7 linked regions of the Homo sapiens genome follow. The protein of the gene in region 5 purifies or fractionates together with the protein of the main gene of each other region. This does not show direct contact. Each region holds a gene or a part of one and is shown on either strand. Other genes may lie near its edges. The genes, in order: MCM9, CDC7, PCDHGA9, XPOT, MCMBP, KSR1 and ORC3.

Region 1 (4,378 bases), on a different chromosome or scaffold from region 5:
GAGATCTTCTGCTGCCATGATCTAAGGAATCAAGCTTTTCAACTTAGACAACACATTTGGCCCTTCCTTTTTGCTTCTCTCTGGGACCCCAGTCCTACCTTTGTAGTCTTTTGTGTTGACCACAGTGTGAGGAAATCTTTAGATCAGAAAGATGCACAAATAATACAGGTAATAAAATAGCTAACAGTTACAGTTAAGTAGTTCCCACTATATGCCAGTTATTATTTAATGTGTTGTATACTTACTAACTCCCTTGATTCTCAACAATTCTGTCTTGATACCATTATAATCTCCATTTTGCAGACAAGAAATGGAGGCAGAGGTTAAGAAACTTGCCTAAGGTCAGACAGTTGGTAATTAATAGCACTGGGATTTGAATCCAAACATGACACCAGAGCCTGTCCTCTTACCACAGGGATATGCTTCCCATCAGCATGTTACTCAGTAAAATTGGCTCTAAGTTTTGGCTTATGTAATTCCCAGATCAATTTGCCTACTCTTGAACCTGTTTGTTGGGGCTGTTTCTTCTTTCCTTCCACATGTAATCACTAGATTCTGGTCACAATTTACCTACCTGCTGTCAAGTCTTATCTGCTTGGATTCCTGACCTTTTCTCCAGGCTTTCTAACTCCAAACAGGGAGGGATTCCTTCAGCAAGTAATGAACTTCCTGGATTTACTAAATCTTCTGGTTCCTTTTTTACTAAAAGATTTTCTTTCTTCACCATTTCTGCCATCGCAGGCCACATCATCATAGATTAGTTGCCACTGAATCAATGTTGATTCATTACAAAAAGTAGCCTTTGTGTATAGGGCCATAAGTCGTGGAAAGGCTCAGGAATGGCTTGTTGGAATTCCATAGGTTGGTTAGGCCAATGACTGAATGAAATACCTGCTTTATTCATGGAAGAGATAGGCAGATTCTCAGATTTGGTGCGTTATTTCTGAAAACAGAACCCCAAACAGTGATGTTCTTTTATTTAAAGCACATGATCAGAAGAATTCGAGATCTCATACTTACACTGCTAGGGTTGTGGTGTGCAGTGATCTTCTTAATGCCTTGATGCCCCTGTAACTTTGTTCCAGAGAAAACAGAATTTACCAGACTGCTCAGAGCAAATGCTGAATTGACTTGGAGGGTGGATTTTTTACTTATTTCTTATACCTTTGGAGCAGCTTCATGAGCTCCAGCTACCTCTGTATTTAAAGATTACTGACTTGTATGATCTGACTCATTATTTCTGAGATTGAATACCTTCCTTTTATTTAGGCAGTGGAGTAATTTTACTGAAATTGTCACATAGAAAGTACATACGGTGGCTCATACCACTCATGAGTGCTGGGTGGTAATCCCAGCACTTTGGGAGGCTGATATGAAAGGATTGCTTGAGCCCAGGAGTGAGACCAGCCTGGGCAACATAGTGAGACCACGTTGCTCCAAAAAAGAAAAAAAACATTAGCTGGGCGTGGTGCTGCACACCTGCTGTCCCAACTACTCAGGAGGCTGAGGCAGAAGGATTGCTTGAGCCCAGGAGTTTGAGGCTGCAATGAGCTATGATCACGCCACTGCACTCCAGCCTAGGTGACAGAGTGAGACCCTGTCTCAAAAAAACAGGACATTTTGAACCAAAACAAAGTTATTTCCTCCTTTAATCCTGTTGGTCATTTGGAATTGGACCTCCTGATCACTTCACATAGTAGAGTATATTTAAATGAGGATGGTCAGATAGGAAAGGAAGGGAAATTTCAGTTGGGGTTTCTTGAAAATTATTGCTGATTTCTGATCTTTCTGCTTTTCCTAGGAAGGAATGTAATATTGGCTAGCTTGTGCCCTCAAGTGTTTGGAATGTATCTAGTAAAGCTTGCTGTGGCCATGGTGCTGGCTGGTGGGATTCAAAGGACTGATGCTACAGGAACACGGGTCAGAGGTTAGTACCTATTTAGAAATTTTGAGTAATATTGACACATGGATGGAAGCTAGAACTTTTTCTTTCCCAAATAAAAACTGCTCGTTGGGTTTTATTTTCCAATTGTAATCTTATAAAACTGACAGTTGTCTGAATATCTTATACTTAGTCTAGCATCTGTATATCAGAAGCTACTTTCTAGAGTTCCAGAAAGACTGAAAGAAGTTACATTTTTCTATGGCATATACTTTTGCTATAGCCTATAAGGATGCCACAAAATAAAATCTTTGTTTCTATTACTGTGTTTTTTGTTGGATCCCCGGTCTGTTTTCAAAAGGAAAAAGATTAGAAATAGTGTATTTTAATGTCTCCAGTCAGCGTCTCTCCATCTGTGGCTGTCACTGTGTTTCTCTTAGACTGCTGCTTTCAGTCATCTGCCTGCTGATTCTCCTTCTGCTGGTAGATAGCAAATGTGCCATCTGCCATGGGGTGCTGCTGCAGGTCACACCTTCAAGAAAAGATTACTCTTAAGTGTATAATTATGTCCAGATGGCAGAAAGCTCTTTTGCAGCTAACACACTTAACCAGAGTCTGGCATACGGGTTATTACGGCCCTGTACGTGGGCCATAATAACCAAAAATTAAACCAAAAGACTAAAAGGGCATTGTTATAAATCAGGCTGTTAGTAGGGACTCGAAAACCATATAGTACAGTATAGAATAGTAAGTATAAGGCGTCCTTATATGTTTTGATCACCTACTGTTTTGCAAGGCACTCTGCCAAATGTTGAGCTTAAATAGGGGTTTCCTATTAATGTATTTAGGAAACACTTGAGAATTGCTGAAGAAACTTGGTCAGTGAAATCATATGTACCATAGGATATGCACGTTATTTATGTTACATTTGCAAAATGAGTACTTATTTTAAGATACATATTTCACTAAGTTACTAAAATTTTCATAAATGAAAAGGTCTTCACTTAACTGTTAGAATCATAATTTGATATTTGTAAAGTACTTGTAAAATCCCTAATACTTCTAAGTGCTTAAATAAAAATAGAATAAAATACTTATATGACTTGTATGCAAGGATTTAATCATAGTAGTTTGATATTTAAAAATAGAGTAAATCAGAAACTTTATAAGCCAAAAATTTTTTGTTTGTTTTTGTAGACATGGAGTCTTGCCCAGGCTGGTCTCACATTTCCGGGCTCAAGTGACCCTCCTGCCTTGGCCTCCCAAATGCTGGGATTACAAGTGTGAGCCACCGCACCTGGCCCCAGATATTTTTTAAAATGTTAAACATAGGCCTGAACATCTGGAAATAGCACATAATTTATTAATAGAATTTAGATTCTATGTCACATTGAGTAATCAATTAAGGACTGTTTATGACAGTTAACTTTCTGAAGATTTTCTAGTTAAATCCTTTCTCAAACGACCCTATGTAAAAGTACACAGTAAAAACACTATGTAATATTTTGTTGGCATTCCAAATGGACCCTTTTATAGAAATTTAAAACTTCATGTATTTGCTTTTTCCTAGGAGAATCTCATCTTTTATTGGTTGGGGATCCTGGCACAGGGAAATCTCAGTTCCTCAAATATGCAGCAAAGATTACACCAAGATCTGTGCTGACCACAGGAATTGGATCTACTAGTGCAGGTATTGTATGTGACAATTTCAAGTAATTTAACATTACTTCAGAAGTTAACACAATGGTTTTTTCTAATGAAAAACTACCTATAATAGGATAAATTTCAAGCTAATTTTTGAGTTACCACTAAAAATGGAAGGAAATATGCAATGTTATTTTGGTAGCTCTAAGAAAATATCTTGCAAGCTCCACCTTCACTTTGCATCTTAGTTTTGAACAATCCTATTCAATTTTCTCATTCTCTAGTGATTACCTTCATACTTTTATGCAGGAAAAAGTCCGTATCATCTGGCATTTTATCAAGACTCAGCAACTGGAATGTTAAACTAAAGAGGGGGATATTTCACTTTACCAAGTAGATAGATGGTATAGAGCTTAAGGCATTTTCATGCTCATAAATCTGATAGGCAACAGTAGCTCCTACTGAAATTTCTTAGGTAGGGAATGTTTATTAATATTTGGAAAATATACTTCCATCATTGCAATGTGGAGCTTCATTCATAAGTTGTAATGATTCTTTAGCAAGTACACTTAAAAGCCTTTGCAGGTAGAATGTCAAGATTTGATTATAAATAAAGTGACCCAGGGAATTTAGAAAAAAATTATTTTAAAAAATATGTTTGATGCTATTTTGTATTTTTACAGTTTTGATTGGGTAATGTTTCTGTTCTTCTGAAAACAGACCCTTGGCTTCACACATTTTAAAAATGTTTGCTACTTGTTAAGGGAGTCAGATTAACTTCCATTGGGCTAATGAATGCTCAAATTTCTAATGAGAAACTAACACTTTAAAATTTATCATACAACAGAAAAT
Region 2 (4,378 bases), on a different chromosome or scaffold from region 5:
CTTTCACAGAAGTGGTTTGGTGCCTGAGAATGACTTGGATGCAGCTGTTTTTGTTTCATCTCACTTAACTCTTTCAAAACTATGGCAGAGTACAGCTGGCAGAAAGTGTTACAGATATAATCCTTATTTTCCTTGTTTTTGTTGGTATTGTAGGAGGGATCTGTAGGCCTTTCTGTCCAGCGCTCTGTTTTTGGAGAAAGAAATTTCAATATACACAGCTCCATTTCACATGAGAGCCCTGCAGTGAAAGTAAGTAATGTAGCTTAATAGCATAATGGTCAGTCAGTCATACACTGAAGAGAATTTAGGTAATAACTAGATTAACATTTATTATCAGAAATTTTTTTAAACTAGAGTTTGGCTTTGGCAGAAGGTATTACTGCTTTAAGCATTTAGTCAAAACTTGTTTTCTCCAGTTTTTTTCTGAACTTTTCTGGTGGAATTTTTTCTCATTTTTGGTTAGCTATTACTGTCTTTCTCTAGAGGAACATTTAGAACATTAAGGGCTTTCTGTCATTGCTAGAGTGTGAGCTCCATACAGTTAGCTAACTATTCTGACACATAGTTGATAGTGTAAAGATGTTTGTAAAGTTAACAAAATCATCATCAATGTAGATGATTTCAGATTGACTTATGATATCTTGTGACAGCTAGACAGCATGAGCAACAAATTAAAACTGTGATTTTAGCCAACGTACTTGTGCAGTTTACAGTTCTGAAATGGAGTTAGACACTAGAACATAACTGTTTTATACTTCTGTAATATATCAGGAAAAGTTCTAATAAAGTATAACTCAAATATTGGCCAAGCTAGGACTAATTAGTAAATTTTAATATAAGGTGACTTTACAGAAAAACCCAAGAAGACCTTAAACATTTTAATAGACAACAGTTTATTTACAGTCCAATAGCCATTCAGCAGTTTTTAAAGTTATGCTTCCGCTATTGCTTTTTGCCATACTAGCATTTTAGGACATCATGTTTAATATCATGAAAATAGAAAAATGAGACTTTTCTTTTACAGCTCATGAAGCAGTCAAAGACTGTGGATGTACTGTCTAGAAAGTTAGCAACAAAAAAGAAGGCTATTTCTACAAAAGTTATGAATAGTGCTGTGATGAGGAAAACTGCCAGTTCTTGCCCAGCTAGCCTGACCTGTGACTGCTATGCAACAGATAAAGTTTGTAGTATTTGCCTTTCAAGGTAATGTGTTTTGATGGTGTTATAAAATCACCAGCATGCTGCCATTAGAAATTGCATTGACTTGGGTGGATAATTTTGTGAGTGCAAGGGATCAGTTCAGATCAGTGAACTGCAATGGGCCTTGATGCAGAGCAGTAGTATGTTGAAGAGCAAATGATAACAGTTTTCATATATTATTTATTTAATATGGATATACTCTGGAAAACACATTTGCTCTTATATGCAAATAAGTGGGACGGGGTGGCTTTTAGAAGCTTAGAATCACACATTTTGATTGCTGATGTAGTCTTTTCTGTTTTCTCTTTTTATTCCCGCTTATGTGGAGTAACCAGAACCAAATAGTAGAGCTCCTCTTTTACTCCCACCTCCAACTCTTTGACTCATAAATTTCTTCCTTTCCTTCAAGGCTTGGCTTTCATAAAGCCTTTCTTGATTAACTCAAATATATAAGTGTATCTGTGATCAATTACTCCAAACAAATGAATTTTTATACCTGTGAATTGCTATTGGGTTCTATTTTTTCTATTATGGCTCTTATTATCCACTACTGCTTTTTATTCTTGGAGGTTATTTTAAACCTTTCTGGAGTAAGTCCGGGGAACTAGTAGAGGGGGTAAAAAACAGAAGAAGAAAAATCTAGGATTTTTATCACACTAGATTATCATTTACTTTATAGTAACACTTATTATATAGGTATCAAGGCAAAATTTACTGTGAACTAAATTGATGAATGTTATTTTTTAGACTTACATAGTTCAACTTTAACATAACTAGAGAAATCTTATTTCATCATAAGGCGTCAGCAGGTTGCCCCTAGGGCAGGTACACCAGGATTCAGAGCACCAGAGGTCTTGACAAAGTGCCCCAATCAAACTACAGGTATGTTGTACTGGAAATACAGAACCTAGTTAAAATGGATTGTTCCAGACGTATTTTATTTTATGATCTTTGTCTATTTATAACTAATATTTGAGTTCTTCTGCTTTTAATTATGTAAGCAGTTCTTGCAGTGTGGCATTCCTATTTTTGAGCTAATGCTATTCTTTATGAAAGTTTTTAATCCTAATGTTGCCTCTCTTTTTTTGTTTAAACAGTTTATTCCATAGATTACATTTTGCGTATTTATTTACAAGATGATCTTACCATCTTGTAAATAAATACGCAAAATGTAATCTGTGGAATTTTGCTGACATCACCTTTGTGGGGGAAAAAATTATGTTTAATAGTTTTTGCCAGCCAAAGACTTAAAGCATTTTATTTGCTTGCTTAATACCTCAAAAGTTTCCTGTGATGTAGATATATTTGTGTTTGATTAAAATTACTTTTGTTATTATATAAACAATATAATAGCAGTTAGAAGGTTTTGAAAAAGAAAAATGTCTTCCGTAATCTAAAAACTTACCATGGAGCTGGAATCCAGGAAACATCTTGAATGAATAGATGAATCCTGCTATTCACTTGGATTATGGGCTTTGAAGAAATGTATTCATTCATTGAATGTCTGTTCTTGCTTGCTAATGATAACAAATAAATAAATGAGACCATCTGTTCACACTCTAGTCAGGACACCATCAAATAATTATAAAATAACCTGTTGAGTATGGTAATAAAACTTATTCAGGGTATTTAAGGAGTATCTAACTATCCTAACCCAAAGAGATTATGAAAGGCAATTCATGAAAGAAATGACCTCTTAGAATGTAAATTGGGCTGAGAAGTTAGCATAGAGGCATGAGCCAAGGAACTCAAGAAACAGCATACAGGAAACTAAAAAAGTTTCATTTTGGCCAGACGCGGTGGCTCATGCCTGTAATCCCAGCACTTTCGGAGGCTGAGATGGGCGGATCACCTGAGATCAGGAGTTTGAAACCAGCCTGACCAACATGGTGAAACCCCATCTCTACTAAAAATACAAAAATCAGCTGGGTGTGGTGGTGCGCACCTGTAATCCCAGCTACTCAGGAGGCTGAGGCAAGAGAATCACTTGAACGCAGGAGGCGGAAGTTGCAGTGAGCCAAGATCGCACCATTGCCCTCCAACCTGGGCGACAGCAAGACTTCATCTCAAAAAAAAAAGTCCAATTTTGCTAGAATATTAAGATGCAAGTTGAGGAATGGTGAGAGATAAACCTGGAATGAGGTAGACAAGGTCAGACCACAGTTGTTACAGTTTGGACTATATACTGTAGATATTGGAAAGTTAAGTGAAAAAAGTGACAATGGTATATCCTAGATGGATCATTCTGGCAGGCGTGCAAACAGATTAGCTTTTGGAGAGTGGTGGCATGAATTTGTCCGGGTGAGAGGATGAAAATGTGAATGAGGGTATTGGTAATAGGAATGAAAAGAAAAGTGAAGGGTTAGAAAGGCAGAGCTTGGTGGATAATTGGATGTAGAATTAGGGTGTGGTATGGTGAGGGAAAAAGGCATTCAGGATGTTTACCAGATTCCTAGCTTGGGAGACTTGGATGTGTACCAGTAACCAAGGTGGAGAGTAAAGGAGAAGTAACTGGTTTATAGGGGAAGGTAAGGTTAGTTTGGGGTATAATTGGTTTGAGGTATTTGTGGGACATCCAAATAGAGATTTCCAGCAGAATCAAAGTTAAGTCTGATGCTCAGCGAAGGAGCTGGGCTAGAAATACAGATGAATGTCATCATTATATAAATGACAGTTGAAGCCATGAAGTGGATGGACCAATCAGGGAGAGTATACAGAGGGAGAAGTTAAAACTCTGAGGAATATCCGTCAGCACTTAAGGCTTGGAGAAAACATTGAAGGAGCAGGCAGAGGTACCAAAGGAGCTAAGAAAGGCAAGTAGGGCCGGGCACAGTGGCTCATGCCTATAATACCAGCACTTTGGGAGGCCAAGGCAGGCAGATCACTAGGTCAGGAGTTCGAGATCAGCCTGGCCAATATGGCGAAATCCCGTCTCTACTAAAAAGTACAAAAAATTAGCAGGGCATGGTGGCACACACCTGTAGTTCCAGCTACTGGGGAGGCTGAGGCAGGAGAATTGAACCCGGGAGGCAGAGGTTACAGTGAGCCAAGATCGCACCATTGCACTCCAGCCTGAGCAACAGAGTGAGACTCAGTCTCAAAAAAAAAAAAAAAAAAAAAAAGGTGATACAGTAGCCCAAGGAACAGAGAGCAGATAACCTGGTGATACTAGGAAGTC
Region 3 (5,114 bases), on a different chromosome or scaffold from region 5:
CTGATTTCACTGGTAGTTTTCATCTCTTTCTTATGTTCCTCATATATGCTTTCTTATTCCTACCTAATGGATTTATGATTTTTTGAATCTCCTAAAATTTTATTAAAAATACTATATGTTGGCTGGGTGCAGTGGCTCATGCCTGTAATCCCAGCACTTTGGGAGGCCGAGGCGGTTGGATCACATGGTCAGGAGTTCAAGACCAGCCTGGGCAATATGGTGAAAACCCGTCTCTACTAAAAATACAAAAATTAGCTGGGTGTGGTGGCGGGCGCCTGTAATCCCAGCTACTCAGGAGGCTAAGACAGGAGAATTGCTTGAACCTGGCAGGTGGAGGTTGCGGTGAGCCGAGATCACTCCATTGCATTCCAGCCTGGGCAACAAGAGCAAAACTCCATCTCAAAAAAAAGGAAGGAGAAGGAGAGGAAGAAGAAGAAAAATACTACATGTTATGTGTATGAGAGAGAAAGAGAGAGACTGATTCACTGAACTTAGAAGGTCCAAATCATCCAAATAATTTTCTAAGTTTATCCAGGTTTTCTTGGATGCAAAATCCTTTTCCACCTCTATATAATTACCAGAAGAAACTTACAAAAAAAAGGAAATGCTATTGCCTGAATTTCTCTTGCTCGGAATCCTGACATATTCTTGAAGAAGGGGAAAAAGACACCGGATTTGTCTTATCGTTTGGAGCTTTAAATATAAATGACTGGATGTTTTCTCAACATCCTTGTAGGATGGAAGGTGAATACAGGATTATTCCATTTTTAAGACAAAAACTACTAGTCTTGTGTACATACAAAGCTCCCATTACATGGTATAAGTCTTTTGCTTGGTTTCCCTTAGTATGTGATTCAGTAAATGGGTTCCTTACAAAGTGCTGAGATTTCTTATAATACCACTTACTTTTAACCTTTCAGTAGTTTTCTTTGTTGTATATTTTGTGTTCTTTTTCCCAAATTATTATATAAGTTTAAGTGATGCTTAGAATAATGTTTAAGACCACTTTAAAATTGCATAATTTATTGATGAAGGATTAAAATAGAAACTTGCTTTTCAGTGTATATGCATTTGAATCATTGAAACACAGTCTGTGCATGCATTACATATTCACATTAAAAAACTAAGCATTTTTGAAATAGCAGAAAAGTTTAAGCAATTACAAAAATGTGAAAATTTCCAACTTTAATCCTGTTAATATTTAGCAATATTAGGCGAGAACATCTGTAACTATTGCTGAATTAATATTACTTTTATAATACAAAAATTTAAAATAAACGTTTTTCCAGGAATTTTATCATCAAAATAAACCCCAGAAAATAATTTCAAAGTGGATAATCTATCCTTATATATGTATTAATACAATTATATATTTTACATTTACAAATATATAGGTATAAAAATTAAAAATGAATGTACTTCCAAACAAGATTGCACATAAAAATTACTTCAGAAAATTGTTAAGATACACAGAAAAAATTGAAGCATCATAAAAAGGAAATTATAATAGTTTACATATCTAGAAATAGAGTGCAAAGTTCTACCAAGAATAAGAATAAATTAATATTAAGCAATGGTTTGTGATTTTATAATACACTTACAGAAATTTTATTCCACTTTATTTACAACTCAGATATCTAAAAAATAGATTGCTTTTGAAATACAAATGCAAGAAACAATTGGAGAAATCTAAAATCATAATTAGAAGAGAGTAGTGTTTTCTTTATCAGCCATCTGATATAATGTTACACATCAGTGGGTGTAGTAACGGCTTAGGACTCTGAGCGCCGCTGTTGATCAACTCTAAGCGAAAATCAGGACTCCATCCGGATTTCCAGTTCTGCGGCTACACAAAACCCGGCAGATACCACAAACCTGCTCCCAGGCTGCAGCAAAACTCAGCCTCTTTCTTCTAAGGAAAAGATCACCATACTTTGCAGGGTGGAAGAAAGAACCTGATGAAGCAGCGCGCACAGAGATCCTTTTGAGAAAATTCCAAAGCGAGGCAGCAATGGCAGCTCCAACCAAATGCCAGCTCCGCGGAAGATTAGTCCTGCTATGCTCGCTCCTGGGGATGCTATGGGAGGCCAGGGCCAGTCAGATTCGCTACTCAGTGCCTGAAGAGACAGAAAAGGGCTATATTGTGGGCAACATCTCCAAGGACCTGGCTCTGGAGCCCCGGGAGCTGGCGGAGCGCCGAGTCCGCATCGTCTCTAGAGGTAGGACGCAGCTTTTCTCTCTGAACCCGCGCAGCGGCACCTTGGTCACCGCGGGTAGGATAGACCGGGAGGAGCTCTGTGCTCAGAGCCCGCGGTGTCTGGTGAACTTTAAAGTCCTGGTTGAAGACAGAGTGAAACTGTACGGAATAGAAATAGAAGTAACTGATATTAACGACAGCGCCCCAAAGTTCCAGGCCGAAAGTCTGGAAGTAAAAATTAACGAAATCGCGGTTCCTGGAGCACGTTATCCACTTCCAGAAGCTATTGATCCGGATGTTGGCGTGAACTCCCTCCAGAGCTACCAGCTCAGCCCCAATCACCACTTCTCCCTGAACGTGCAGACTGGAGACAATGGAGCCATAAACCCAGAGCTGGTGCTGGAGCGCGCCCTGGACAGGGAGGAGGCAACTGCCCACCACCTGGTCCTCACGGCCTCGGATGGCGGCGAGCCGCGTCGCTCCAGCACAGTGCGCATCCATGTGACAGTGTTGGATACAAATGATAATGCCCCGGTTTTTGCTCAACGGATTTACCGAGTTAAAGTCCTTGAGAACGTGCCCCCAGGCACCTGGCTGCTTACTGCAACAGCCAGCGACCTGGATGAGGGAATCAACGGAAAAGTGGCATACAAATTCTGGAAAATTAATGAAAAACAATCTCTGCTATTCCAGCTTAATGAAAATACTGGGGAAATATCAACAGCAAAAAGTCTAGATTATGAAGAATGTTCATTTTATGAAATGGAAATACAAGCTGAAGATGGTGGGGGATTGAAAGGGTGGACAAAAGTGCTCATTTCGGTGGAAGATGTAAATGACAATAGACCTGAAGTGACCATTACATCTCTGTTTAGCCCAGTGAGAGAAGACGCACCTCAGGGAACAGTAATTCTTCTTTTCAATGCTCATGACCGAGACTCCGGGAAGAATGGTCAAGTTGTCTGTTCTATCCAGGAGAATCTATCTTTTACATTAGAAAATTCAGAAGAAGATTATTACAGATTGTTGACGGCCCAAATTCTTGACCGAGAAAAAGCCTCAGAATATAATATCACGGTGACTGCAACAGACAGAGGAACTCCGCCCCTGTCCACAGAAATTCACATCACCCTGCAAGTGACTGACATCAATGATAATCCACCTGCTTTCTCTCAAGCCTCCTACTCAGTCTACCTCCCGGAAAACAACGCCAGAGGTACTTCCATCTTCTCCGTGATTGCCTATGACCCTGATAGCAATGAGAATTCTAGAGTTATTTACTCCTTGGCAGAGGATACCATCCAAGGGTCTCCTCTCTCCACCTATGTCTCTATTAACTCAGACACTGGTGTGCTGTATGCTCTGTGCTCCTTTGACTATGAGCAGTTTAGAGATTTGCAAATGCAGGTGACGGCAAGTGACAGTGGAAGCCCACCACTTAGCAGCAATGTGTCATTGAGACTGTTTGTTTTGGACCAGAATGACAATGCCCCAGAAATCCTGTACCCTGCCCTCCCCACTGATGGTTCTACTGGTGTGGAGCTGGCACCCCGCTCTGCAGAGCCTGGCTACCTGGTGACCAAGGTGGTGGCAGTGGACAGAGACTCAGGCCAGAATGCTTGGCTCTCCTACCGCCTATTCAAGGCCAGTGAGCCAGGGCTCTTCTCGGTGGGGCTGCACACAGGTGAAGTGCGCACAGCTCGGGCCCTGCTAGATAGAGATGCGCTCAAACAGAGCCTTGTGGTGGCTGTACAGGACCATGGCCAGCCCCCTCTCTCGGCCACTGTCACGCTCACAGTAGCCATAGCTGACAGCATCCCAGACATCCTGGCTGACCTGGGCAGTCTTCAGATCCCTGCAGACCTGGAGGCCTCAGACCTTACCCTCTACCTCGTTGTGGCTGTGGCAGTCGTCTCCTGTGTCTTCCTCACCTTCGTTATCACGCTGCTGGCCCTCAGGCTGAGGCACTGGCACTCCTCGCATCTGCTGCGGGCTACCAGTGATGGGTTGGCTGGTGTGCCCACCTCACACTTTGTGGGTGTAGATGGGGTTCGAGCTTTCCTACAGACCTATTCTCAGGAGTTCTCCCTCACCGCTGACTCAAGGAAGAGTCACCTGATCTTCCCCCAGCCCAACTATGCAGACACACTCATCAGCCAGCAGAGCTGTGAGAAAAATGAGCCTTTGTGCGTCTCTGTTGATTCCAAGTTTCCTATAGAAGACACCCCTTTGGTTCCGGTGAGTTCATTTTTTTTCTTTCTTTCTTTTCTTTTTTTGTTTTTTGTTTTGTTTTGTTTTTGAGACAGAGTCTTACTCTGTTACCCAGGCTGGAATGCAGTGGTGTGATCTCGGCTCATTGCAACCTCCGCCTCCCAAATTCAAGCGATTCTCCTGCCTCAGCCTCCCAAGTAGAGTAGCTGGGACTAGAGTAGAGTAGCTGGGACTACAGGCCTCCCAAGTAGAATAACTGGGACTACAGGCACGTGCCACCACGCCCGGCTAATTTTTTGTGTGTTTTTAGTAGAGACGGGGTGTCACCATGTTGGCCAGGCTGGTCTTGAATTCCTAACCTCAAGTGATCCACCCACCTCAGCCTCCCAAAGCACTGGGATTACAGGCGTGAGCCACTGCGCCTGGCCCTTAACTTTCTATTATAGTTAGCTTTCTCTTTAACTGTCTGTACTTAAGGTAGTATAAGTTGATATCAGTGTGTTTCTCATCACTTTTCACTGGGCCTAATTGTTGCTCCAACACTGAAAGGAGGCATTTATTAGTTATATTTGCTGATATAACTTTCATGTTCTCATAATAATTAACCTGCTGTCAACGTAAACCATACTTCATGGGGTAGCTCTCAGCCTGCATTGATGTGGGCTTTTTGGGTAGGGTTGCTTCATTGGTTGCAGTGGACTCATAT
Region 4 (4,378 bases), on a different chromosome or scaffold from region 5:
TAGGCATGAGTCACCCTGCCCGGCCACATTAGTGATATTTAACTTTCTTGTTATTTGGTCTAGGCAGACATAAATAAGCAGTTATGATAGGTTATGTCTTAAGTAAAATGGTTACATGACAAGAATCCATTATAAAGTGCTGGGATAGTTGGATAAATGTAAACAATTAAATATAATGTAGCCTACAACTATAATCATGACTATAGCTGAATGATAGAAAAATATAAAGAATGAGCCTATAATTAATTTTTTTTAAAGACGTGGGCATTTGGAACTATAGGGTAAGTGGAAAGGAAAGAGGCATTTTCTTTTTACTTTTCATAGCAAAGAATACTTTTTATAAATGAGCTAAATGAGGTTAACAATCTCACTAAAAATTATAGCAGTTTTTATTCTTATTTTAAGAAAAAAATCTTTTAAAGCAGTAAAAAACAATCCCAACTAGTTTCTAATACAGTACCATGTGCATGTCTCTGCTACTAAATAAGTAACGAGCCCTTCAGATACAGGAAAATAATAGGAATTGAGATTTAAGTATCTGGCTAATTACAAGATACCTATCAAACAAGTTAGGACATCAAAAGACATTTAAAATCCATGTCTTCTGTGTGTAAACAAATCTTTCTTGTCATAGGGTTTTATGCTACCTACCTTCAAACATAGTTGAAGTATCATAGATCTTTACCTTTAGTCTAGCTTGGTATTGCATGCTTGTAATTAAAAGCCTTTGACTGTATGTTTAGTTATTAAATGGCCTTTACTGTTATTTTTATGTGCCTCTTGAAATCTTTCATTTCTTAAGTTCCAGCATCCAATTTTTGGATGAAAGAGGCATTTTCTTTGCCTCTTAAGTTCCAGCATCCAATTTTTTTAAATGTGCCATGATTTCTTTTTCAGAAAATTAAAACCAATACATTATTAGTGGTTTTAATACAGAAGCTCTGCTTTTTGTCAGTAAAAATGGGTTCTGTCACATACGTGTTTTAAGCATCCAGGTCCAGGCATAATTCAGTATCCATTTAGCCAATCTGAATAACAATTTATTAGGATGAAAGGGAAGAAATCTTAAAGTGAATTCTGAAAGCCCTTTTGTTGCAGTTCGGGAGTAGTGGAAACTTAATTCAGTTTGGTGGTGAGAAGAATGACTGTCTGCCAACCCCAATTGCTCAGTTGTCTATCTGTAATTCTCTGTTTTTTACATGGGCAATAAAAGTTGAACTGACTCTTGTCACATAGAGTCAGTCAACCATTAGAAAAAAGGTATGGGGTAGAACTAGGTGGTGAAAGCTAGGACTTGTTTGTCAGTGTTGTAGAATTTTGTTTTTTTAATTGTTAGTAATGCATAGATTCAGAATACAAAGGCTTTGTTTAAAAACTAAAAACTTCCACGTTATCTCTCCTCTCCTTCCTCTCACCCCTGCCCCGCCCCCCGCCCTTTTTTTTTTGAGACAGAGTCTCACTCTGTTGCCCAGCCTGGAGTGGAATGGCACCATCTTGGCTCACAGCAACCTCCAACTCCCGGGTTCAAGAGATTCTCCTGCCTCAGCTGGGATTAGAGTAGCTAGGATTAGAAGCACACACCACCACGCCTAGCTAATTTCTGTATGTTTGGTGGAGACGGGGTTTCACCATGTTGGTCAGGCTGGTCTCAAACTCTTGACCTTGTGATCTCCCTGCCTCAGCCTCCCAAAGTGCTGGGATTACAGGCATGACTCACCGCGCCCAGCCTCCTCCTTTTTAAAAAATAAAACACTCGTCTTTGGCTTAAAACCTGTTATTATTTAAAGAAAATGGTATGTCATGACATTTCTAGCAGCTGAAACCACCTCTCCCCTCTTTTGTAAGTGAAATATTAGGTGGTAATGCAACATACATGATTAACTTCTACCTTGTCCTCTGGCCTCTGAGATATTCCTAAAGAATACCCTATGTTTCATGGACTGCTGTTAGAAACAACTAAGCTAGTACTATCTTTTATAGCTGCCTGTGTTCTTATAGTCTTAACTTCTAAAGAGAGACATTATTTACTCTGGGCTGTTTTCCAATACCAACAACCAACTCTCTTGATTTCTGTGGACACCAACTGGGTGTCCTACAAATCAATTCAATTCTGACACTACCAGGATTAGCATCACATCCCACAAGTTATGGGCTCGGTCTTACAAACCGCCCCCACTTAAGACACTAATTGAGTCCAGAACCTCTCATATTTCTGATGATGGAGTAGCCTACAGAACTTAGAAAAACAGTTGACTTTCTTGTGCTGATGAAGGATCCACCTCATGAGCAGCCACATGGAAGCGATGCATAGGGCAAAGTATAGGGGAAGGGGCACAGAGCTCTTGTGCCCTCTCTAGGAACACCACCCTCTCTAGGAACACCACCCTCTCAGCATCTCGATGTGTTTGCCAACCTGGAAGTTCAAGAGTTTTTATAGAGCTGAATCTTGAGTCCCTTCTCCCCTTCCCAGAGGTTGGTGGTTAGGGTAAAAGTTTCAACACTCTAATCAGTTGATCTTTCTGGTAACCAGCTGTATCCTGAGGCTGTCTAGTGTTCCCACACCAAGTTACCTCATTAACATAAACTCTGTTGACCCCGAAGTCTCTAGTGATCCTTCCACCTTAGCCTCCCAAGTAGTTGGGACTGTAGGTGCACGTCACCACTTCTGGCTAATTTTTAAATTTTTTGTAGAGACAGGGTCCCACTATGTTGCCCAGGCTAGCCTTGAACTGCTGGCCTCAAGTGATCTTCCAGCCTCAAGTGATCTTCCCACCTTGACCCCCCAGAGTGTTGGGATTATAGGTGTGAACTGCTGTGCCTGGCCCAAAGGACTCATTATAAATAACAAAAGACGGTCCTGTCGCTCAGGAAATTTTCCAAGAGTTTTAAGGGCTCTGAGCCAGCAACTGGCTGCAAAGCCCAAATGTATTTTTTCGTTATACCATATATTTAATATTATATTTGGTGATCTTCACCTAATCATCTTCATTTACCTGGTCTTCTGTCAGTGGGAGCAGCCATTGAGACCATGTATGAAAACCCATTCCCTCATTCATACAGTTACATAGTATAGGAAACTATCACCTAAATATAAATACAGTGGCTTTGATCTGTAACCCAAAGAAAAAAATAACTTTACATCTCGATGACCCAGTGTGTGTGTATATATTTATAGGTACATATGCACATAAATAACTAAAACAAGTTACAGAAAGTAATATTCTTGCTAGGGTATAGTACAGAATATCTAATATTCTCTATTTCATTTTTAAAAATTATTGTTCAGGACCCATAAACTGATTTCATCACTAGTGGGAGACACCACCGTTTTAAAAATATTTACCAATTGAAATTAGGTTTCTCTAAGGCTAATGTTTCTTTTACCTCATGTCAGCTTTTGTTTCATACATAATTGCTGTCAAATCATCTAGCAGTGCTTCCAGTTGATGTGCAATTTTCTTGTCTATTGGAGATACTTGTCACAAGATGTTCACTACTATTTGTCCATTGCCATGTGTGAAACCTGCATCTGGTGCAACATGCTGATGGGAAGAGTGCCTGAAGTAACTCCCATTTTCCCAACAGTTTGGTAGAGAGCGTATGGACTTGGTGCTGCATCCATTCTAGAGTACTCTTGCTCCTTGTTGGCACTGTTACTTGTGATTACAAGGCCCTGAATTCATAAACTTAGAGATAAAAAACTTCCTCGAGCTTTGACCTTTTCAGTTACTTAATATTTTTCAAAATTCATATCATGCACTTGTACTCCAATTTTAATCTCTTTAGGGAACTTACATGATATAATTAAAGACTTGAAATACTCTCCTGTGTAACAGTAGATCAGATAAGGTACACAGTATGTTTTATCTTTTATAATCACCGCTTTAATAGCAGATGTGCTATTAAATAGGAAAAGTGCCCTTCACGTGCCATTTTATAATTGCATATTATAAAATGATCACACCCTTAACTCATCCTCTGCAATTTCTCAGTAGTATGGCACTTGACAAAGCACTTGCTCTCATTCTTCATAATAACCCCATGAAGGCTGCGGGGCATTTTTGTGTTGTTGCTGCTGTAAGAAAACAGGTTTGATTATCTAACTGATGGAATTTATATTTATTTAACCTATTTTTAGGAATGACCCCAAGTTGCATATATTCGGAAGCCTGCATTTAATGTTTTAACTGTTTTTCTATTAAGTTTACTGATTTGTTATAGGTTTGCAACTCTCAGAATATTTTGTTTATATTAGCAGGGCATTGAGATTGTTTATTCTAAATGCATTTTTTTGTTTTGCAATCTTATAGGCCCTGGCCTATTTTGAGCAGTTAAAAATTTCCCCAGATGCCTGGCAGGTGTGTGCAGAAGCTCTAGC
Region 5 (3,830 bases):
GCCTCGTTCTTCTTAAAGACTCTAGCTGCTTTGCTCTCAGCCATCGTTCTCTTGACAGCGTTGTCTGACCAGCACTGAGAGACAGACACCTGGTTTGAAACACAGAAACAAATTTAAGTCTAGAGCTGGGATAGTAAGTTTTAAATTTTTTTTAAGACCTAGGAATACTTTGTGAAAACACAGAGCACGTTAGGAGACAAGACCGTATGGTAGTTACACACAAGTCAACAGCCAAGTTAGGCTTCTAAAAAGAAATCGTTGAAGAGTCAGAATTGGAAAGTGGCTCACTCTTTGAAGCTTAGAGAACAAGCAGCATGCCTGTTCCACTGAAGAGATCACCAGCCAAACTCGATTCCCCCTCAATGAGCCCTTTCATACAGCGTTTTTAAAAGGAAAAGTTCATTTCCGTTTTTAGAATTCTGCCTCAGTTACTGCTGAATAACTCAGAAGACATATACACAAGCTTACCGAAACAGCAATAATGGACGTGCGCCACTTACCGAGCCACCACGAGCAGCTGGTGAAGATCATCAGCAGTGATGCTCTGAGGGTCGTTCTTCCGCATTTCCACAAAGTCATCTTCAACTGCCTTTATCAAAAGAGTAAATGTAAATGATGTGCATTTTTGTAAGGAAAAGAAAATTAACATGGTTCCTTGACTGATGTAGTAAGGTGCATGTCAGCCTCTTAGACAAAGGAGGCAATATGGGTGAAAGTACCAAAGCATATACATACATAATGCTGCTGATGAAAATAAAATAATGAAACTCAGATTCATTTAAGGTCAAGCAAACATATAAATCAGCAACTGGCATAGGAAACAATGCTTTTCCACAAAGGAAGAGTGATGTTAGTGAAAATGGCAGAGAAGGGACCGCAGAAAACTGTCTCTACTGTTAACACTGATCAAAATCAGCTTTTTAAAAACTAGAAATAAAACCATACTTGCAGCAATCCAGAGAGCATTTATGCAAGAAAACCAGGTGATTATTGGTAAGAATGTTGAGCCTGGCAGCATTTTAACATGTCCTACTCCTAAATTCCAACCCCTTCCCCTCCAGGCGATAATTAGTAGCTTCAAAAATCAACAGCCTGGCAGCCACCGGAGAGAGAACAGGGCTAGGGCTCCTTCCAAGTGCCATTCCCGGAGAACTGTCATCTGACCACCTGTCTGGTGGCTCCCTGGAAGGACCCATTTGCAAGGTTGTCTTTATTTAACCTGACTGGAAGCCTGTCTACTATGAACCACCTCTTTCCCCAGGGCATTTATCAAAAACAATCGGAAGAAATTACCAATCACCTTAGCTACCTGAGACACTGGGTAACAGCTGCGGCAGACAGACTAACCCAAACCCTTCAATGGAAAAGCTAGCTGGGAAATGACATGTCTGTAGAGGGCTCTGAAAACCTTAAGTATGTAACTCCTAGGAACTCAGAAGGCTGCAGACATGCTCAGAGACCATAGCTCCCACCTCTGCATGACCTGGAGGCTCTGTGCGAGCAGGAAATGAAGGCTAAGGCTTGTAAATTGCATGGCTAAGTGTTGAACTGAGGGCTTGCCCCAACTTTTATTTTTATTTATGATTATTATTCACCCGTAGACTGGGAGACTACTACCCAGCATTTAAGGAAATTTCTTTCCAATCATTAACCACAAAACTAACAGAGCAGAGACTTCAGTGCCCACATGTGACAAAGATACAGACTTTATAGAATTAGTCAAAAAAGTTACTAAACAACCTACCAACAGTAACAAACAGCAACAACAATAAACCCTAGGGAGGTTTAATTTCCAGAGTAACTTCCAAAGCAGAGTTGCCATATTATATAATTTAAAATGTCTGGTTGTGGCTAGATGTGGTGGCTTACACCTGTAATCCCAACACATTGGGAGGCCAAGGTGGGAGGACTACTTGAAGCCAGGAGTTGACCAGCCTAGGCAATAAAGCAAGACCTCATCACTACAAAAAAAAAAAGAAAGAAAAAAAAAGAAAAGAAAAAACAAAAAAACAAAACTTTAGTTGGGCATGGTGGTGCACACCTATGGTCCCAGCTACTGAGGCAAGAGGATCACTTGAGCCCAGCAGTTTAAGGCTGCAGTGAGCTGTGGCTGTGCTACTTACTATTCCAGCCTGGGTGATACAGTGAGACCCCACTGACCAAATAAAATGTCTGGTTTTCAACAAAAAAGTACAAAGAAACCAGAAGGTATGGCTCACACTTTGGGGATAAGGGAGTCAGTAGAAAACTGTCCCAGAGGAAACTCAAACATTAGACAAAAAGACTCTAAATTGGCTATTTTAAACATTCAAAGAAATAAAGGAAACCACATAAAAAGAACTTCAGGAAAATATGAGAATCACCAAATAGAGAGTATCAATAAAAAGAGAGAAATAATTTTTTAGAAGAAGGAAATAAAAATTCTGGAGTTGAAAAATATAGTAAAAATTCTCTAGAGGTGCTCAGATTTGATCAGGCAGAAGAAAATCACTAAATTTGAAGATAAGTTCACTGAGATTAGTCTAAGAAACAGAACAAAAAAAGAAGAATGAGGGAAAATGAACAGAGCCTTGAAGACCTGTGGGATACCATTAAATGCAACATCAGATACACAGTGGTAGTGTCAGAAGGAGAGCAGAGAGAAATGAGGCAGAAAGAAACATGGCCAAAACCTTCCCAAACTTGTTGAAAACTTCCCCAAAATATGAATTATTCTGCACCTCCAAGAAGCTCAACAAACTCCATGTAGGATAAACTCAGAGATCCACACATAGACACATCATAATCGAAACTGTCAAAAGCCACAAAATCTTGAAAGCAGTGACAGAAAAATGACTCAGTGTGTACAAAGGATCCTTATCAGAAACTAGTTGGCTTCTCAGTAGAAACCAGAGGCCAGAAAGTGGTGGGAGGACATATTCGAAATGATGAGACAAAGACTATAAACCAAGAATTCTACATCCAGCAAAACTAGCCTTAAGGAGAAATTAAGACATTCCCAGATAAACAAAAACTTAAAAGAGGGCTGGGCGAGGTAGCTCACACCTCTAATTCCAGAATTTCGGGAGGCTAAGGAGAGAGGATCACTTGAACCCAGGAGTTCGAGACTAGCCTGGGCAACATAAAGAGATCCCCTATCTGCACACACACAAACACACACACACACCCAAACAAAACAAAAAAACCCAAAAAACAAAGAATTAGCTGGGCACAGTGGCACATGCCTGTGGTCCCAACTACTCAGGAGGCTGAAGTGGGAGGATCGCTTGAACCTGGGGGGGTTGAGGCTGCAGTGAGCCATGATCACAACACTGCACTCTAGCCTGGATGACACAGCGAGACCCTGTCTCAAAAAAAAAAAAAAAAAAAAAAAAGAATTTGCACAAGTAGACCTGCCATGCAAGAAACACTAAAGACAGTTCTTCAGGCTGAAATGAAAAGATACTAGACAGTAACATGAACCCACATGAGGAAATAAAGGGTGCTGGTAAAAGTGATTGCATAGGCAAATAGAAAAAATAGTACAGAAGTCTTTTCCATTTCTAACTTTTTTCTCTAAAAGACAACTGCAAAAGCAGTAATTCTAAATGTGTTGATGGACATACAATGTACTGAGAGGTAATTGTATGACAGGAGCACAAGGGAGAGGAGAAGGAACGGAATTATAAAGGGGCAAAGTCTTTGTATAATATAATTAAAATGGCATTAGCCACACAAATTTTTTTTAAATTAAAAATAACTAAACAAACTGGCATTAATCCCTAATAGATGATTATACTAACATGTTAAGTTTATCCCCCAAAGACAACTACTAAGAAAATAACTTTAAG
Region 6 (4,378 bases), on a different chromosome or scaffold from region 5:
ACCAGGGCCCTCTGTTTTGGCCACACTTGGCCTCAGGGCACCAGGGGCCTACTCACCCAAATGCATAGACATCAGCAGCTTTGGAGAATGGCAGCTGATCCTCGTCCTTCCCGGGGGTCATCTCGCGTACAATCTCAGGGGCCAGATAGCACAGCCAGTCGTGGGACAGCTTTAGCTGGTTCTCACGCCTGGAGACCAGGAAGCCGGGACAAGGACACAGGCCTTTCAGCAGGCAGCAAAGAGGCCTGCCTGGCACAGGTCTGCCCCAGGGCCGGCAGAACACCCACACACAGCTTAGAAAACACACCCAGACCCAGAACACTGACCCTGCACTTGGGAAAGGCACCGGTGCTTTTGAGGAATTCTACAAAGGAGTCATGACCGGTTGTTTCTAGAAAAGCAGGGCAAGAATGGATAAATATTGACAGGGAGCTGCTGGTGAAGGTGCCCAGCTCCCTCTGCTGGAGAATGAGGCGCCTCTCTAACCAGGAACCCTGATCTGCCTGTGGATCTCAAACTTGGCTGGGGCTGGCCTTGCAGCCTTGCTGCCATGCTCCCTTTTGGGTTCCCCTAGATGTGAGGGGAGGGGCCTTTCTCCCTATGCCAATCCCTTCAAGATTTGGGGAAATAAAATTTGACACTCTTCCTCATCGTGGGGAAATGACCTGGTTCCTTGGCCAAGCGGGTGAACAGCCAGGGCAAATGTGAGTGTGGGGACCTGGTTTCCGTGGAAGTCGGCCTGAGAATCCAAACGCGACCCAAATCTGATTCTGAACCAGAACTACGAGGGCAGGACCAAAGCGACCTGGGCTTCCCTGCAGGGAGGGCTGCAGCTCAGCAACAAACAGTGAAAGTGCCCAGACCTCAGCCCTGCTCTTCCCCATCCAGCACCCACAACCCACCCAGACACTCAAGACCAACTCACCGTCCCTCTCGGACCACGCCTGAGATCCCAAACAGCCCGAAGTCTGTGATGACCACCTTGCCGTTGTCATAGAAGACGTTCTTAGATTTGAGATCTTTGTGTACGATGCCCTTGGCATGAAGATATCCCATGCCCTGGAGGACACATCAGGAGGAGTGAAGATGTGCAACGATGACGGAGGTGCCACCCTGGGCTGGATGATTTACCTAAATCCCCATATTTGATCTTCACAATTCCATGCAGTATATTGTCCCCATTTTACAGAAGAAGAAATCGAGGTTCAGAGAGGGAAAGTCACTTGCTCCAAGCCACACAGCAGTGAAGAAGCAGAGCTGAGATCTGATCCCAGACCGGTCTATGCTCTTTTAATGTTACCATGCTTCTAAACAACCATGTTAACCTTGGCTAAGGTAGGAGGTGTGAACAGGGTGATGGGCAGGGAGCCGGGGGGTCAGGGACAGTGAGATTTATCAGTGTACAGTCATAAAGGGCCTAAATGAGCTGGGGTTTTCTGTCAGGATATGCACAGCTGGTCTGTGCTCTCAGGCAGGACAAGGGCTCAAGGTGGGGGAACAGAGAGGCATTCCCACAGCGGGGTCCCCAACTTTGAGTGCTCCTAATGTCTGAGCTGTAGTAGAAGGAGCCCTGGACTAAGAAATCTGGGGTTTGAACTCCATCTCAGCTCAGATTCTCACTCACTCTGTGGCCTTGGACACAGTGCTCAACTTCTCTGAAGACTGGTTTCCTCACCTATCAAGCGAAGAGGTGGCAGTGGGTGATTTCTAACCAATGCTCTATTTGAACTAACACTGATGAGTCAGGTGCATGGAGCGTGGGTGACCTGACATAGGCATGATCTCATCCAAGGTCAAGCTGTCTTCAAACACCAGACCCAGGGCTCCTGTGTACCCCACAGCATGGATTATCGCGTTTTTAACCTCACACCAATCCAGAGAGGGAGGATATATGAAGATCCCCATTTTACAGGGGAGAAAACTGAGGCTTAGAGAGGCTAAACCTACCCAAGGTCACACAAAGGGTGTGACCAGGATTGAAACTGGCCTCTAAAGCCTGCCAAGTTCCTTCCCAACCAAGTCAATTCCATCAAGCCTAATCATGTGGACAATCAGCTCCCAGCTCTGAATGAATGAGACAGAGACAGGGAGGAAGAGATGGGGTCCCACCCTTGAGGAGCCTGAGCTAGAAGGAGAGGCAAAGCTGCCCAAACCACCCTAACAGGGAGTAACAGGGCGAGAGGAACAGCCGAGAGCCCTGGAACCGGCCAGAAACCCACCCCCAGCAGCTGGGCACCCCCTCACCTTGATGATCTCCTGAGCGATTTGCCTCGTCTTGTTGATGTCCAGAGACGTCTTGGGGTCCCTCACAAACGAGTGCAACGTCCGCCCCTTGCAGAAGCTGTCGAGGGTGGTGGGGGTCAAGCACAAGTCTGGGGCTGGTGCGGCCTGACCCCAACCCTGGTGGAGCCCATGGGGAGAACTGTGCCCGTCTGCCTGCAAGGACTCTCTCCAGCCCCTCGACTGTGAGCCAAATCTTCTTTAACCCAGCCCAGTCCTGCTGGGGCCTGGCCTGAACGTGCAGAAACACATGACACCACACACGTACACGCACACAAACCCCCATTCCCTGAGAGCCAGTGCCTGCCCATCCTACAACAGGAAACAGTGCATCAAAGCTCTCAGGAACTCAGAGTAGCCATGCTTGGTGGGTTCAAGGCAGGACCACTCTGATGGGGAAGAACTTGGCTAATTTAAGGGCATCAACAGGCAACATCAAGGCTCTGGGGCTCACTGTCAAGAATCTCATTATAGTTTTCATTTTTTCTTGATCACAGGGTTTTTATTACAATAAAGGAGTGTGCAAGGAGGGAAAGGGGGTGGGGTAGATGTTAGGGGCGTCAAGGTGACTACTGGAAAAGGAGCTTCAGTTCTGGGGTCGCCACCTGCATCAACTCCTAAAACCCCGGGTGAGGAGGGACCCAGAGAGAATGTGGGTCCAAGGGAGCTATCTTAGGAAGGGACTATGTTTTTAGGAAAATATTCTTGGAGTCTCAGAGCCTTTGAAAACCAGGCAAGGGGTAGAGAATATTGGTTGGTGATTTCCTTATCTGTGTCCCACTTTTCTTCAGCGTATTCTAAACAAAGTAAGATTTTTTTGTTAATGAATATTTTCCTGTTTCAGGCAGGCCACAGTGGCTCACGCCTGTAATCTCAGCACTTTGGGAGGCTGAGGTGGGCGGATCACCTCAGGTCAAGAGTTTGAGACCAGCCTGGCCAACACGGTGAAACCTCATCTTTACTGAAAATATAAAAATTAGCGAGGCGTGGTGGCACACGGCTGTAATCCCAGCTACTTGGGAGGCTGAGGCACGAAAATTGCTTGAGCCTGGGAGGCAGAGGTTGCAGTGAGCCAAGAACACGCCACTGCACTCCAGCCTGGGTGACAGAGCGAGACCCTGTCTAGTTTATCATTAATTAATTACCTGTTTTGTTTTTCATTAACTACTTTTTTTTTTTTTTTGAGATGGAGTCTTGTTCTGTAAATAAATTACGGGACCACCAGTGATCAGCTCTTGATTATACAACTCTTCCCAACTCTACTCCACTCCAGGAGATAACATTGGTAGTCTGAAATTGACCATGGTGAGAGTATTTACACCACAGGAAGTGATGGATGTTATAAATTAGGGCTTCCCTCCATACTGCCCCAAAACTGGTTGTTACACATTTACCAGCACACCACTGGGTTCAGCCTACGTGATGGGGATACTGTGCAGGTGTTAGAAGAGAGTAGACCTCAGACCCACAATCGGGTGCAGGAGGCAAGGTGTGAGCCAGCATGATCTCTCCTTTGTATTTTTACAAAAAGGAATAAACAGTTTAAAAACGTGAGTATATGCAAATGTCTTCCTTTTAACAGAAGGAATGTTAACTGTTTATAGTGTCTCTGACTTTGGGGAGAAGCGCTCAGTTGCAGTGGGAGAAGACTGGCTTTCACTCTGTACCTTTTATGGACATTTGATCTTCTGTAAACTTAGAAAGGTCTCACTCTGTCACCCAGGCTGGAGTGCAGTGGCATGATCTTGGCTCGCTGCAGCCTTGACCTCCTGGGCTCAAGCGATCCTCCTGCCTCAGCCTCCCAAGTAGCTGAGACCACAGGCACAGGCACCTGCCACCAGGCCCAGCTAATTTTTTTGTAGAGACAGCGTCTCAGTATGTTGCCCAGGCTGGTCTCAAGCTCCTGGGCTCAAGCAATCCTTCCACCTTGGCCTCCCAAAGTGTTGGGATTACAGACATGGGCCACTGCACCAGCCCATATTTATTTATTTTTTAGTGTCAATGCGGTTATGTGATTAGGAAGTTATACCCCATTTTTGGTTTTCTTCTTTATGCCTCTATTAGAACTTCCACACCCTCTAGGGCATCCACACAAACA
Region 7 (3,286 bases), on a different chromosome or scaffold from region 5:
ATTTTGCTTTTAGTAAATGGTTCAGTCCTCTACAGAGAGAGGATTGACAAAAATGTTATAGTGAAAATTGAAGTCCAACAGAGCTTAAAGGAAAAAATATATATATTATATATAAAGAAAATAAACCTGTGCTTATCTAAACATGGATGCCTGACTGGCTGTTTCAGAGAATACCTTCTGCCTCCTGAGACACAGCCTCTCCATGAGGTGGTGTACTTCAGTGCTGCCCATGCCCTTCGTGAGCATTTAAATGCTGCTCCGCGAATTGCCCTCCATACTGCACTCAACAATCCTTACTATTATCTCAAGGTAAGATGAACATTTAGTTTTCTGATAGTTTAGCTCAGACTCTGGGCGTCATTGTCATAAAAATATACTAAATTTGCAGTTATGTTTTAATGAGCAGAGAGTCGGCAATTCAGGGTTGCACGTCTCATATATTTTTAAAAATTCTTTAGACTGTAGAAAAAAATTTCTAACCCCATAAAGATAGCAATTAGTAGTCAACTGTTGCTGCCAGTTTTTGACCATGTGTAATCTTTGCCCTTCACATGCTAAAGTCAGATCATAGGCACAAAGACTTGAGAGTATAATGTTACCACTCTTGTGAAAATAAAAGAAATGTTTCCTGTAAACATAACAGCAGACAGGGATTAAACAATATGGCCTAATAAATTACTGAAAGACCGAAATGGTTGTTTCTAGTGGGAAAGAGAAATACTTTGGGACTTCATCTTGGATTTTAAAACAAAGAAAGGTCTATTCTGAGAGCATCTGCAGAGCTGAGTGTAGAGGATAACCAGCAGTCTGCCACTAAAACTCCTGGGGCAGCACACTTCAGCTGCCCTTGCTAAAGTCCAGACACAGTTATCAACTCCTGGAAGCTCTTTAAACAATAGTTCAAGACAGCTCACAATTTTAGAAACTAGCTTTCTTATGACCGGGCAAAATGATCACTTTAAACATTCAATAAGCTGTATATACATGAAAGAGTGGTAAGTTAAATACCCAGAAATCTTGCCACAATAAATACTTAAGAAACAACTCCGTAAGACCTATGAAGAGCATTCCAGTGTACTGGCTTCTCATTGCAAAACGGCACACAAACATGCAGAGTATTACAAGAATATTGAGTAGGACGATATAAGTCAATGGTTTTCAGTGATGGTGAAAACCACTGAATAATTTCATACTTAACCAAAAAATCAGTTAATTTTAATATATAAACCATAAATTAAAACTTACAAAATCTGTCTTCTTCTTGGCTGGTGGGTCACAGAAGAGAACTGGTATGATTTCAGTTGTCTTTGGGTGGGATATATTATAATATACCCCTGATATTATAATATCAGAGCAGGGTGTGTATGTAAGACTTTGTGTTTCTCAGTAAAAGCCATGGATTTCAAATAGGTTGAAGAAACACTGATGGTTTCTATAGGGCTTAAGGTCTGCAGTGTTGACAACGTAGTCTTTTCTTTAAAAGAAATTTATACCCCTGGTAAGTGGTATTAGTATTTACTAATACAGTATAGTAATTGTTAGAATTCAGCTAATTATAAGTGTTGGAAGTACCATTTTATTAAGTATTCCTAAAGATTTCCATAAACTTTTTACATTAAGTGCATTCAGGTCTGAGAAATTAGTAATTTATGGATTGAAATGAAAAATATGCTTATCTTCTAATCCTGGGAATATTCTTCTAGTGACTAAGAACTAGAGGGGTTATGACCAAGACATAAACCTAAACAAGAACTAGCTAACTATTGAATAGACTCACTCACTAAATAAGGGAAACCAAGATTCCATTTACTGGTTTACTCAGTTTAGGTTGGGGGCTTCATTAATGTCTGATTTTATTCCTAATAATTTATAAAAGTTAGTCATCTTAGTTTACTGTTAATTGTTAGAATGAAGCACTGAAAAGCGAAGAAGGCTGCATTCCGAATATCGCCCCAGACATCTGCATAGCATACAAACTGCACCTAGAGTGTAGCAGGCTCATCAACCTCGTGGACTGGTCAGAGGTAGGTTGTAGGGAAAAGAACAAGCTAGATATTTTTCTAACCATCCATGATGACTTTCTCAGAATAGTTTTATACTTTTAGTGCTTTGGAATTTATCTTGTGTTTAATGCCTTGTCTTTTATTTGGAAAGCATAAATCATTTCAAACTTTAAAAGTTCCTTAGGAAGTGGTAGTTCAACAGTCCCCACTCCCAATCCCCTGCCCTCTGATCCTGAATTCCTTAACCAAGCCAATTCTGTGTTCATGCTAGGTCAAAATAAGTATGTGATCTAACCCAATAGTTAGCATTAAGCAAAAACTAAACAATTTAGGTCAGTTCTGTTATTTCACAAAATAAAGTATATTATTAACTAGCATTTCTCTTCTTGCTTAAAAGAAAAAAAATTGAAGTAACTACACAACAGATTTAGCAATCAGGAAGTATAAGGAATACTTGGCAAGGCAATAAACAACTGTTGTTATTCTTTAAAATAAACAACTATTCTTTCTGTCTTCAGAATAGTATTACAAAGATCTTAACTCTATTAAAGGCCTTACAGATGTCTTGTCACCATTAAAAAATATCCATAATTGGCTGCTTCCAAGAAAAATAGATATTTTCCTGGAGTAAGATTAGTAGAGGAAACAGGGCTTTCTTGTTCTTTTACCTTTGACTAGCTTCGTTTCTTTTCTCTGCATACTCTTAGTTCTCTGAAACAAGATTATTCAGGAACCATTACTTTATCTTTTAATATATAAGTGGTTTAAAGTGATCATCAGTGTAGTTTTGACAATCTTAAATTTGATATAATGAAGAATATGTGCCAGCTATCAACAGCCATTAAAAGAAGTATAGTAAAAGATGTTTGGCAACTGTAGACATTTTTATTTTCTTCTGTCTTGTCTATTCAAAAGGCTTTTGCAACAGTTGTGACAGCTGCTGAAAAAATGGATGCAAATTCTGCAACCTCAGAAGAAATGAATGAAATTATCCAGTATCCTTTTAAAACCATTTCTACAATGTCCAACTACACATAAAATATAAGTTTATAATTTCTCCAGGTCTACACTAGATATTTATAAAGGCGTACTCCAAACAACCGTATTACTTGTTAATATTAACCATATGGTGCTAGAATAACTGAAATTTCTGAATCTTTATTTTGAATTTAATCCAAAATGAGACCAAACCTAAAACTTTTGGTATCAAATTTATATCAAGATTATATTTTAAAATTTACCAAAAATGAAACTGCCATTATTGAATTCTCTTTTTTTGGTTT

What was found.
Region 1: the proteins of MCMBP (region 5) and MCM9 purify together in Homo sapiens (affinity purification with mass spectrometry; one study listed by BioGRID and IntAct). This does not show direct contact.
Region 2: the proteins of MCMBP (region 5) and CDC7 purify together in Homo sapiens (co-immunoprecipitation; 2 studies listed by IntAct). This does not show direct contact.
Region 3: the proteins of MCMBP (region 5) and PCDHGA9 purify together in Homo sapiens (co-immunoprecipitation; one large-scale study listed by IntAct). This does not show direct contact.
Region 4: the proteins of MCMBP (region 5) and XPOT fractionate together in Homo sapiens (co-fractionation; one large-scale study listed by BioGRID). This does not show direct contact.
Region 6: the proteins of MCMBP (region 5) and KSR1 purify together in Homo sapiens (co-immunoprecipitation; one large-scale study listed by IntAct). This does not show direct contact.
Region 7: the proteins of MCMBP (region 5) and ORC3 purify together in Homo sapiens (co-immunoprecipitation; one study listed by IntAct). This does not show direct contact.

The regions. Positions count from the first base shown.
Region 1 is NC_000006.12:118,910,844-118,915,221, reverse strand, and holds part of MCM9 (DNA helicase MCM9), read left to right. Parts: intron 1-1,801; coding exon 1,802-1,927; intron 1,928-3,452; coding exon 3,453-3,572; coding exon of another isoform or gene 3,573-3,598; exon of another isoform or gene 3,599-4,378. UniProt on the Homo sapiens protein: Component of the MCM8-MCM9 complex, a complex involved in the repair of double-stranded DNA breaks (DBSs) and DNA interstrand cross-links (ICLs) by homologous recombination (HR).
Region 2 is NC_000001.11:91,513,795-91,518,172, forward strand, and holds part of CDC7 (cell division cycle 7-related protein kinase), read left to right. Parts: intron 1-153; coding exon 154-249; intron 250-1,024; coding exon 1,025-1,203; intron 1,204-1,947; coding exon of another isoform or gene 1,948-1,957; exon of another isoform or gene 1,958-1,999; coding exon 2,000-2,082; intron 2,083-4,378. UniProt on the Homo sapiens protein: Kinase involved in initiation of DNA replication. Phosphorylates critical substrates that regulate the G1/S phase transition and initiation of DNA replication, such as MCM proteins and CLASPIN.
Region 3 is NC_000005.10:141,400,942-141,406,055, forward strand, and holds the start of PCDHGA9 (protocadherin gamma-A9 isoform 1 precursor), read left to right. Parts: upstream 1-1,836; 5' UTR 1,837-2,011; coding exon 2,012-4,435; coding exon of another isoform or gene 4,436-4,498; exon of another isoform or gene 4,499-4,558; intron 4,559-5,114. UniProt on the Homo sapiens protein: Potential calcium-dependent cell-adhesion protein. May be involved in the establishment and maintenance of specific neuronal connections in the brain.
Region 4 is NC_000012.12:64,410,597-64,414,974, forward strand, and holds part of XPOT (exportin-T), read left to right. Parts: intron 1-4,310; coding exon 4,311-4,378. UniProt on the Homo sapiens protein: Mediates the nuclear export of aminoacylated tRNAs. In the nucleus binds to tRNA and to the GTPase Ran in its active GTP-bound form. Docking of this trimeric complex to the nuclear pore complex (NPC) is mediated through binding to nucleoporins.
Region 5 is NC_000010.11:119,831,512-119,835,341, forward strand, and holds part of MCMBP (mini-chromosome maintenance complex-binding protein), read right to left. Parts: intron 590-3,830; coding exon 501-589; intron 90-500; coding exon 1-89. UniProt on the Homo sapiens protein: Associated component of the MCM complex that acts as a regulator of DNA replication.
Region 6 is NC_000017.11:27,605,877-27,610,254, reverse strand, and holds part of KSR1 (kinase suppressor of Ras 1), read right to left. Parts: intron 2,342-4,378; coding exon 2,245-2,341; intron 1,060-2,244; coding exon 926-1,059; intron 189-925; coding exon 57-188; intron 1-56.
Region 7 is NC_000006.12:87,662,836-87,666,121, forward strand, and holds part of ORC3 (origin recognition complex subunit 3), read left to right. Parts: intron 1-167; coding exon 168-309; intron 310-1,907; coding exon 1,908-2,024; intron 2,025-2,918; coding exon 2,919-2,998; intron 2,999-3,286. UniProt on the Homo sapiens protein: Component of the origin recognition complex (ORC) that binds origins of replication. DNA-binding is ATP-dependent. The specific DNA sequences that define origins of replication have not been identified yet.